Linked DNA regions of Homo sapiens: region 2 is reported to be linked to region 1. The links are microRNA targets in miRTarBase. Many come from high-throughput screens and were not tested one by one. Region 1 holds a microRNA gene; the other region holds the end of a gene's coding sequence.
The links. Region 1 holds the annotated microRNA hsa-miR-4527 (UGGUCUGCAAAGAGAUGACUGU, at 1,410-1,431, shown strand). A microRNA usually pairs through its seed, bases 2 to 8, with sites in the 3' UTR of a target mRNA and lowers its output. Matches are read on the target gene's strand: a 7mer-m8 pairs with bases 2 to 8, a 7mer-A1 pairs with bases 2 to 7 and ends in A, and an 8mer does both.

Region 1 (4,394 bases):
TTACAATGTTACGCTGGACCTACAACCCTTCTTTGTTAGAGTCTTTATCTCTTTAGCTATTCATTCTGGATTCCAAAAAGAATTATGCAGGCCTAGTCCCAGACACTGTGCTAGTGCCGGGGGTGCAGGGATGGGCAAGAGAGTCAGGCTCTGTCCTTGTGGAGCTGTGAAAGTTGGAAACCTGGGAGTCTCCTTTGCCTCTGCTACCTTTCCACTAGCACATCCAGTTATCTTCTGTCTCCCTGCCACTGGCCTTGACCACTCTCCTCTAAAGCTTCTAGAACAGTGCTTATCACGTACGGTAGACGAACAGTACATGTTGGTCTATCATAGTCCCCACCACACCCCTAAGCCATGATTTACATCCAAGTCTGACCCCTATCTTGCTCAGAAGTCTCCAATGAATCCCCCTTTTCTATGGTGTAAGATGGAAATGGCCTTGAATGGCACATAGGCCATTCAGGATTTGGTCCCTGCCTATCTGTCCAACCTCATCTCCTGCATTAGTCAGGCTTCTCCAGATAAACAGAACCGATAGGATATGCATGTATGTTGAAGCCTTGGGGGCACTCTGCTTTACCCAAAGTTCAACAAGTTAAATGTTAATCTTATCTGAAAACACCTTCCAAGTGAACACGTGAAATTAACCATCACACCCCCTTTGCCCTGTATGTTCTGGCAATATTGCACCTCTTTTTAGCTTCCAAAAATGGTCCACTATCCTGCCTCTGGGCCTTTGCACACACTGTTCCTTTTGCCAGACTTATCTTTCCCCATTCTTGTCCACTCAACAGACACCAATTCTCACACTAATCCAGCCTCAGCTGCAAAGCACTCTCTCTCAGTGACCCCTTGGACCCTCACAGAGAGATTTGGGTGCTCTGTGTTGTTATTCCCATTCTATTTTGCACTTAGTTTTGTCACATCATTTATCATGTTAATGTTGGCTGGCATATCTCCCTTCCCACTGGGAAGACAAGGGCTTATCTTTTTGTTTTTGTCTAAGTCAAGCCTTATGTTGGGTATTGGGGAAAATCTCTTGGGCATTACAACCTTAACCAATGATCTTATTATAATCATCCTACCACCTCATTTTAATTACTTATAAAGTAGAGGATTGAACTGATAGAGCAGTAATCACCAATTGCTTAACTTCATAGTCGTTCTCCCTCTACTTCATGTCATAGAGCTCTTAGCTGAGCCCATGGCCTCCTGGAAGTAAAACTACATTTTCCAGCAGGCTGTGCAGCTGTATGTGGCCATGTGACTGTACATCATGGCTAGTGGGATGTGAATGGGTCCTCAGCACCTTCTGGGAGACTTTCTTTTCTGTCATTTCCTCCAGCCAGCTGCCTGGAATCATAAGCCTACTATCTTGGACCATGAAGATGTGAAGCAGAGGCCAGAAGTGGTCTGCAAAGAGATGACTGTGAATCCAAGATCCACATCAGCTCTGTGCTGCCTACATCTGACTTCTCCGGGAACAAAAAGAACAAACACCACTACTCTGTTTAAGCCACCATGTTTAGAATCTTTGTTGCTTGCAATTGAGCCTAATCATAAGGATATATCTTGAGAAGTGCTTTCCAAATTCTCTGAGGGAAGTCAGGAGACATCATGAGCAAAGAGAGTTTAAAGAGGCTGAGTTAGCCCTCCTCACTCACTGCCATCCCAACCCAATTGTGTCTGTGCCACTTCTGTGTATTTTACCTGTTGACTTAGAGTTTGTTTGAAGATGGAAGGACTAGAAGCTCTCCCAAGTCCCATCCATTTCTGACATTCTAAACATCTGTCCATATGTATAACCATTATAAAAGGAAAGAATTCCATAAAGAGGAGGCGGATCTCCCTATCATGTGCACATAGGCAAACATGGGCATCGATGGTCATAGCCTTCATTCCTGATGGTGGAATTTCAGGCATGGTGGCAGGTGCTGGAGAAGATCTCTGTCTCCTTTGTCTATGTCTCAGGCCTGCCTGAGTGGCGTCCTCTTATTTCCTGCCCACCCTGTGCTACCCATCCCAGAGCTGGGTAGGTAGCAGGTATTTAGGGGATGTTGACTGGATATGCTGAATGAACATGGGCTGAATGAGCCCATGCTGGCATCTCCATACTAACTTTTGTACATTAAGTGCTCTCACTGGCTGTCTCAAATGAGCTGTGGGTTTGTTTCTTGGCAGTTCTGTAGTTGTGGCCTTATTTCTTCCCATTCTTACGCCAGGAGTCTTTGTGGCAGGCTGGAAATTCTGCCCAGCACCAAGCCCATAGCAGAGACAGCAGACATCGGAAACAGGCTGGACCTGCAGTGGCCGCGCCTGTGTGGTGCATGCGTATGCATTCATGGTTTCTCCTCTTCTGTCTCTCCGGGGCTGGTGTCACTCTGCCCAGGAGTTCACCCAGGCGGCTCAGAAGGGTGGCTGCTGTGGAACGTGATAAATTTAGAGCACCAGGAAGTTGGGAAGCTGCAGCCATCAGCAGCTGAAGCAGACGGGGGCAGAACTGAATGGTCTCTTCTGGGTTTTTAATGAAGCCGCCCTAACTCCCCAGTCCCTGTGGCTTTTATCGGGTGCTATTAGTAACCCTTTTGTACAGATGGTAAAGCAGAAGCACAAAGAGGTTCAGCAGCTTGCGTGTGACCCCTTAGCCTCAAAGTGACTGTCCAGTTCATTTTTCACCCCTACTTATCTGTTGATCCAGCAGGTGTGGAAGTGCTTTGCAAACTGTAGGATGTAATCTATGTGGAAGGAATTGCTGCTGTTAGTGCTCGTCTTTCAGAGAGAGCAGTGGCAGTTGGCACCACCCCTTATAAGCTGAGACCTACTTCATCTTCCTGGGTCCCATTCATGCAGCCAAGATGGAGTGAGTGTGTGAGCAAATGTGCATGTGTGTATAAGCATGTGTGTATACACGCCTGTGTGAGGGTACCCTGCCTGCAGCTTTAGCCGAGGCTGTCATTTCTGATGCAGGAGAACCTGCACTTTGCCCCATCTCCACAGTTCGTTATTTTCCAGCTGGGCGCCTGTCACCAGCACTCGGGAAGCACGTGTCAGCTGGGCCTGAAGGATGGCTTAGCCAGTCGAGGGGCTCTGGCAGGGGTGGGGACCGTGACCTGGGGCCAGGAGTAGGTGGGGCAAGGAAGTCTGCCCAGTTGCCCTAGTGATGTGGGGGTGGCCCCAGGAGACGTGCCTTGCCCCTGCTCCTACCCCGGGGCTCTGCTTCCTGCCTGTCAGGTGAGTATGAGGGAGATGGGCTGATTCGATGGGGGTAGAGAGGCGGGCCACGTGAGCTCTGCCCTGGGGTCAGCCTCCATTCATCACTTTCTCTGACACCTTTCTGCTGCAGCTTCTCTCTTTCGGTGAAAGGGAAGGTAGGAGGAGGGGAAGGTAAGGAGGGGAAACTTCCAGAGCCTTCAGGGCCTGAGGGGTTGGTGACATGGGGATGAGGCTTAGATTTAGGACCAGGGATCTGGGCCAGCCTTAGAAAAATTAGTGAAGGGGCAACACCTGGGCCCAGGAGGCCAAAGACCTGGGTGTCCTAGCAGTGTTGCCTCAGAGTTCTTCACAGTGGTCCTGCAGCCAAAGCCTGAGCTCCAGCCTGGGCGCCCATAAGCTAGGCGCCCATATAAAAGGCACTGGGAAACTTCACCTCTCTGTGCCTTAGTTTCCTCATCTGTAGAAGGGAAATATTAATAGTCTCTGCCTTATAGGGCATTATGAGGGCTAAATGACTTAGAATGGGACTTGGCCTTAGGAGGGATTTGATAAAGGGTAGCTGCTATTATCACTGTTGTTACTTTGGTTGAGGCTGTACCCTTAACCCACCATGGAGACCTTGGTCAAGAGGCTCTCATCTCTGTAGGCCTAACGTTGGCTGCATAAGCTCCCCAAGCCCTCTCAGCCATTGCTGTATGAGGGGGACAGTAATTCCTTCCCATAAGCCCAGCAACAGAGAGGGGTCCTACATAAGGGACAAGTAGGAAGCAAGGGGGCATTGGTGATGCGATGACTTGGAAAGGCCCTTCCACTGCCTGTGGGAAGAGGTGGTCTGCTTTTGGAACTTCCAGCCTTTTTCATGATCCCCCAATACAGCTCCATCTGTAACCTTCTCCTAGAATTTTTCTTATAGCCAGTTGTGAGATTGGGGACCAAGCTGACAAGATAATGCCTTCAGGGTGAGCCTTGTTCTGCACATGGCATTTTCAAGGGAGATCTGGAAGACTGAAAAATCCTTGGAGGCCTGATAGGCTGGCATGCTAACAGTGGCATTCCAGACCTTGTGGTAGGTACAGTTGGGGCAAGCTGGGTTTTTCTAGGGAAGAGCCTGTTCAATGCCTCCCTAATCATACCTTATAGGCAGCTGATCTTCAGGCATGCCCATGCTTGGATGCCTGTAG
Region 2 (4,394 bases), not on the chromosome of region 1:
TTTCTTTTGTGTTAGTCCCCAAGAAGTTTGCTGTCATTTTAATTTTTCTTTCTCTGCATATAATATGCCTTTTTCTCTGCTTGCTTGGAAGACTTTTTTTTTTCTTTATCACTGGTTTTGAGCAATTTATGGTGTGCCTTGGCATAGTTTTCTCCCTGTCCCTGTTTTTGGTGCTTGGCATTTGTAGAATTTCTTGGTTCTGTGGGTTTATAGTTTTCATCAAATTTGGAAAATCTTCACTTCAATTATACCTATATATATAGGCCATTCATTAGAAGTCATTCCACAATTCGCTATTGCTGTTTTTTCCCTCAATCTTATTTTTCTGTTTTTTATTTTGGATCTATTGCTATGTCTTCAAGTTTACCTATCCATTCTTCTATGATGTCTAATCTGCTATTAATCCAATCCAGCATGTTTTTCATCTCAGATGTTATAGATTTCATCTCTAGAACTTTGGTTTGAGTCATACTTATAAGTTCTATGTGTACTTTGCATGTTATATTTCTTCTGGCTTATTGAACATGTGGAATACAGTTATAATAGTTCTAATGTCTAACAATTCTATCATCTGTAACATTCTAGCTTTCCTGATTTTTCTTCTCATGATGGATTGCATTTTGCTGCTTTTTTGCATGCCTTATAATTTTTTATCAGAAGCTAGACATTGTGAATATTACCTTGTTGGATGCTGGATATTTTGATTATTCTATAGATATCCTTGCGTTTGTTCTAGAACACAGCTCAGTTATTTGGTAACAGTTTAATCCTTTAAGTTTTTGCTCTTAATCTTTAGGTTGTGCAGAACCAGAGAGTGCTTAGTCTAGGGCTAATTTTTGCCACTTCTGAGACAAAATTGTTTTGTGGATTCTACCTATTGCCAAAATAGGCAGTATTCATGGCCTTGTGTAGGCTTTGGAGAGCGTTCCCTTTAATATTTTCAGGTGGTTCTTCCCCATGCCTTGGGTAATTTCTTCATGCACATGTTTTGATCAGTATTCATCTGAATACCTAAGGGGAAATATCTGCAGGTCTCTGGAGCTTTGTGTGCCTCTCTCTTTCATCCTTTATCAGACTTGCAAACTTCAGCTGCTCTGATCTTTCTGGACTCCTAGCTCTATCCTCTCTACTCAGGGAGCTGGTGAACTCTGCGTGGGTTCCCCTCTCTCCAGCATGACCTAGAAACTCTTTGCATGCAGTACTCTAGGGCAAACATAGGGCTCACTTAGAGTCTCATCTCTCAGGGACCAGTTCTCTAAAAGGAGACTCCTAGCCAGACGCGGTGGCTCACGCCTGTAATCCCAGCACTTTGGGAGGCTGAGGCAGGCAGATCACGAGGTCAGGAGATCGAGACCATCCTGGCTAACACAGTGAAACCCCGTCTCTACTAAAAATACAAAAAAAAAAAAAAATTACCTAATGTCCAATGCCTTGAAAATCATTCTCATCTATAGTGTCTTTTTTTTTTTTTAGTTGTTTCAAGCAGGAGATTAAATCTCGTTAGTTACTTCATCTTGACCACAAGCCATAGATGATATTGGAAACACATGGAGAGCTTGTTGTAAGTACACATATCTTAGGGCATATTCCAGTCATACTGATTTACAAGCTGTATCAGTCAGACGAGGGTATGGTTCTGCAACTGTGTGCCAAAACTATGCCAGGCACTAGATATATAAAGTTAAATTAGGCATAGTACCTGTTTGCAAACGACTTTACAATCCACTGAGAAAGACTGGGTAAACCAAATCTTACGGTGCAATATATTAAGCATAATGTCTACATGCAGGGTGATTTGGAGCATCTTATGAGAAAAGGCATCCAAATATAGCCACATGATGGCCAAGGGAGGGTTAGCAAATGAGTCCTGGAGGAAACTGAGGAAATTTGGAAAGATGAGCTAGAGTTAGTTGTTTTAGTGGAAACAGGGGGAAAGGAAGCCATCATGCAAGAACACTCCAAGTAGAGAGGATACTGTTATGAAGGCTCAGAGGTGCCAGGTTGCATAATACCTTTGGGGAACTGCAAAAAGTTTGGAATGGCGAGATCAGAGTGGATGGAGGAAGAGGTGGTCTTCAGTGTCTCCATGTCTAAAAGGAGACTCCTGGCTGGGTGTGGTGGCTCACGCCTGTAATCCCAGCACTTTGGGAGGCCAAGGCGGGCAGATCACGAGGTCAGGAGATCTAGACCATCCTGGCTAACATGGTGAAACCCCGTCTCTACTAAAAATACAAAAAAAAAAATTAGCCGGGCATGGTGGCGGGTGCCTGTAATCTCAGCTACCTGGGAGGCTGAGACAGGAGAATTGCTTGAACCCAGGAGGCGGAGGTTGCAGTGAGCCGAGATCACGCCACTGCACTGCAGCCTGGGTGACAGAGCGAGAGTCTGTCTCAAAACAAAACAAAACAAACAAACAAACAAAAAATGGAGACTCCTCTATCCCTAACAGTGATGACTTTCATGTGGGAGAAGAAAACAAAAGAGAATAACTCATTTTATTGAGATGGGTAGGCTAGTGAAGCATTTGATAATAGATAGATCCAGTTTTCCCTTGAACCTGAGAGTATGTCTGACTTACTGACTTGTTTGTTCTTCAAAGTTTTATTAAGCACCAGTTTTACATCAGGCCATATGCTGGGTACTACATATCCAGAAATTTGTAAGACCTTATAATTTGATAGTATTTTTTAAATTGTTTTGTGTCTTAAACACTTACTATTGAGCATGTTTCTAAAAAACCTTATACCGAACAGCCGCAATCTCAGGAAAGCAATCAGTGACTGCGTTGACAGGAGAGGAAATTGGCAGCTTAGCTGAGGGCAGCACACATTAGGGACCATAAGTGAAGACTTAACATTAAGTACCAAGAAGTGTTCTGAGCATTTTATGTAAATTAACTCATTTGATAATCAGAAGACTTATTACTTACTAATCAGAAGACACTCTTTTGACAGTAGTCTTTCTATGTATTTATTTTACCTGCTACCAATCATTGTACTACCACAAAGAATGAGGAAGTCCCAGGGACCTTGGGAAGAAGAGGTGTGGTCCCTGAGAAAAGGGTTGAGGGGGTGTTGGAGTAAAAATTTTGTACCAAATGGAAGTTTTTCAAAAAGGCACAGACAACAGTTACCTCTCCAAACAAATGGATGTAGCAGTAAACCTAAGAGTTTCTTTAGGCTGTTTACTAACGTGAATAGCAACATCTTCCTAGGTATTAGGCCACCCCAAGTGTAGTTTAAAAATAAATAGTACTAGAAACGGAAGTGGAAACACATGCACAGTTTATCTTTTCACTCTTGTGAGGTCAGCAGACATCTGTAACGCACTTTCCCTACAGCAGCTAACAAAGGCAGGATGATGGTATCTGTTCTGAACGTTTGAAACAACATCACCACTTATCTTTACAGATTTCCTCAGGTTCTCAATGGAGGGCCTGAAAAACATCACTGTCAAGGATGATGCTGCTACATTTTATGAGCTGGAGACGAACGAGACCTCTCCTGATGCCTCTCCAGTCACAGGAATAATGGTTTTGAAAACGTCAATGCTCCATCTGCCTTGTACGTTGTAATCTCCTGTAGTCCATCTGAGGCCAACGTGCACAGGACCACAGTAGACAAAGAGTATTCCTGATGACAAATCTGATATTTCAGTCTACTTCTTCATGTGATATCCCAAGTATTTTTTCCTAGAGGGGAAAAATAGGTTCTTAAAATTCCAAGTTAGATTTACTGTTGAAGTGAAAACATATGGCTGCTAACTCTGCTCTATCCCAGGCGTGACCCGAGGCTCAGGAGACCATGTTAGTTTGGGGGAGGGTTTGGAGAGGTGACTGGCATTCTTGGTATGCCTGCAAGGAAGACATCAGCTAAGGTCTTACGTTACACACCCAGAGCTAACAGGCTGGATCTTTCCTTGAAGATGGGAGGGCTTCAAGGGTGTATTTAAAATGTAATAAAAGTGGGTACTGAAAGGTCAATGACTATGAAGGTTACAACTCTCTCCTTTCAAAGTGCTACAGAATGGGTGAGGTTGCAGGACTGCAGGGTAACTATGTGAATGGTGCTCCACAGAGAGCACAAAGAGCCAAGGAGTAAATCAGAATCTCGTGGTAGCTTGTTTGGCATGCCTTGTAGATAGAGTTGCTATTCATTCATTTGATCGATTCATTCACCGTTCTACAAGTACTGGCTGAACATCTATGGTGTTATGTAGAGGAATGGGAGCTATGGGAGATTAAAGGAGCCATCATAAAAACATGATCTCACCCTTACAGATTTGCAGTTTAGTTGGGAAGATGAGATGTACTCATATGAAATGTGGAATACTGAGATAGGAACCCTGAGCTTCTGGAAAGCTTGTGCATGGGACTAGATTTCTCTCCTCCCACA

Region 2: the mRNA of BCL2L14 is a reported target of hsa-miR-4527. The part of its 3' UTR that is shown has no 7-base or 8-base seed match.

The regions. Positions count from the first base shown.
Region 1 is chr18:47,379,094-47,383,487 of GRCh38, forward strand. MIR4527 (microRNA 4527) reads left to right here and starts at 1,403; the gene lies at 1,403-1,472. All of the region lies in intron 1 of MIR4527HG (MIR4527 host gene), which reads left to right.
Region 2 is chr12:12,098,247-12,102,640 of GRCh38, reverse strand. It overlaps BCL2L14 (BCL2 like 14), which reads right to left. Exons shown (of 6, transcript NM_138723.2): 6 at 2,946-3,691. The coding sequence ends at 3,653. Among named protein-coding and RNA genes, the nearest start is that of MIR1244-4, 12 kb to the left of the region's middle.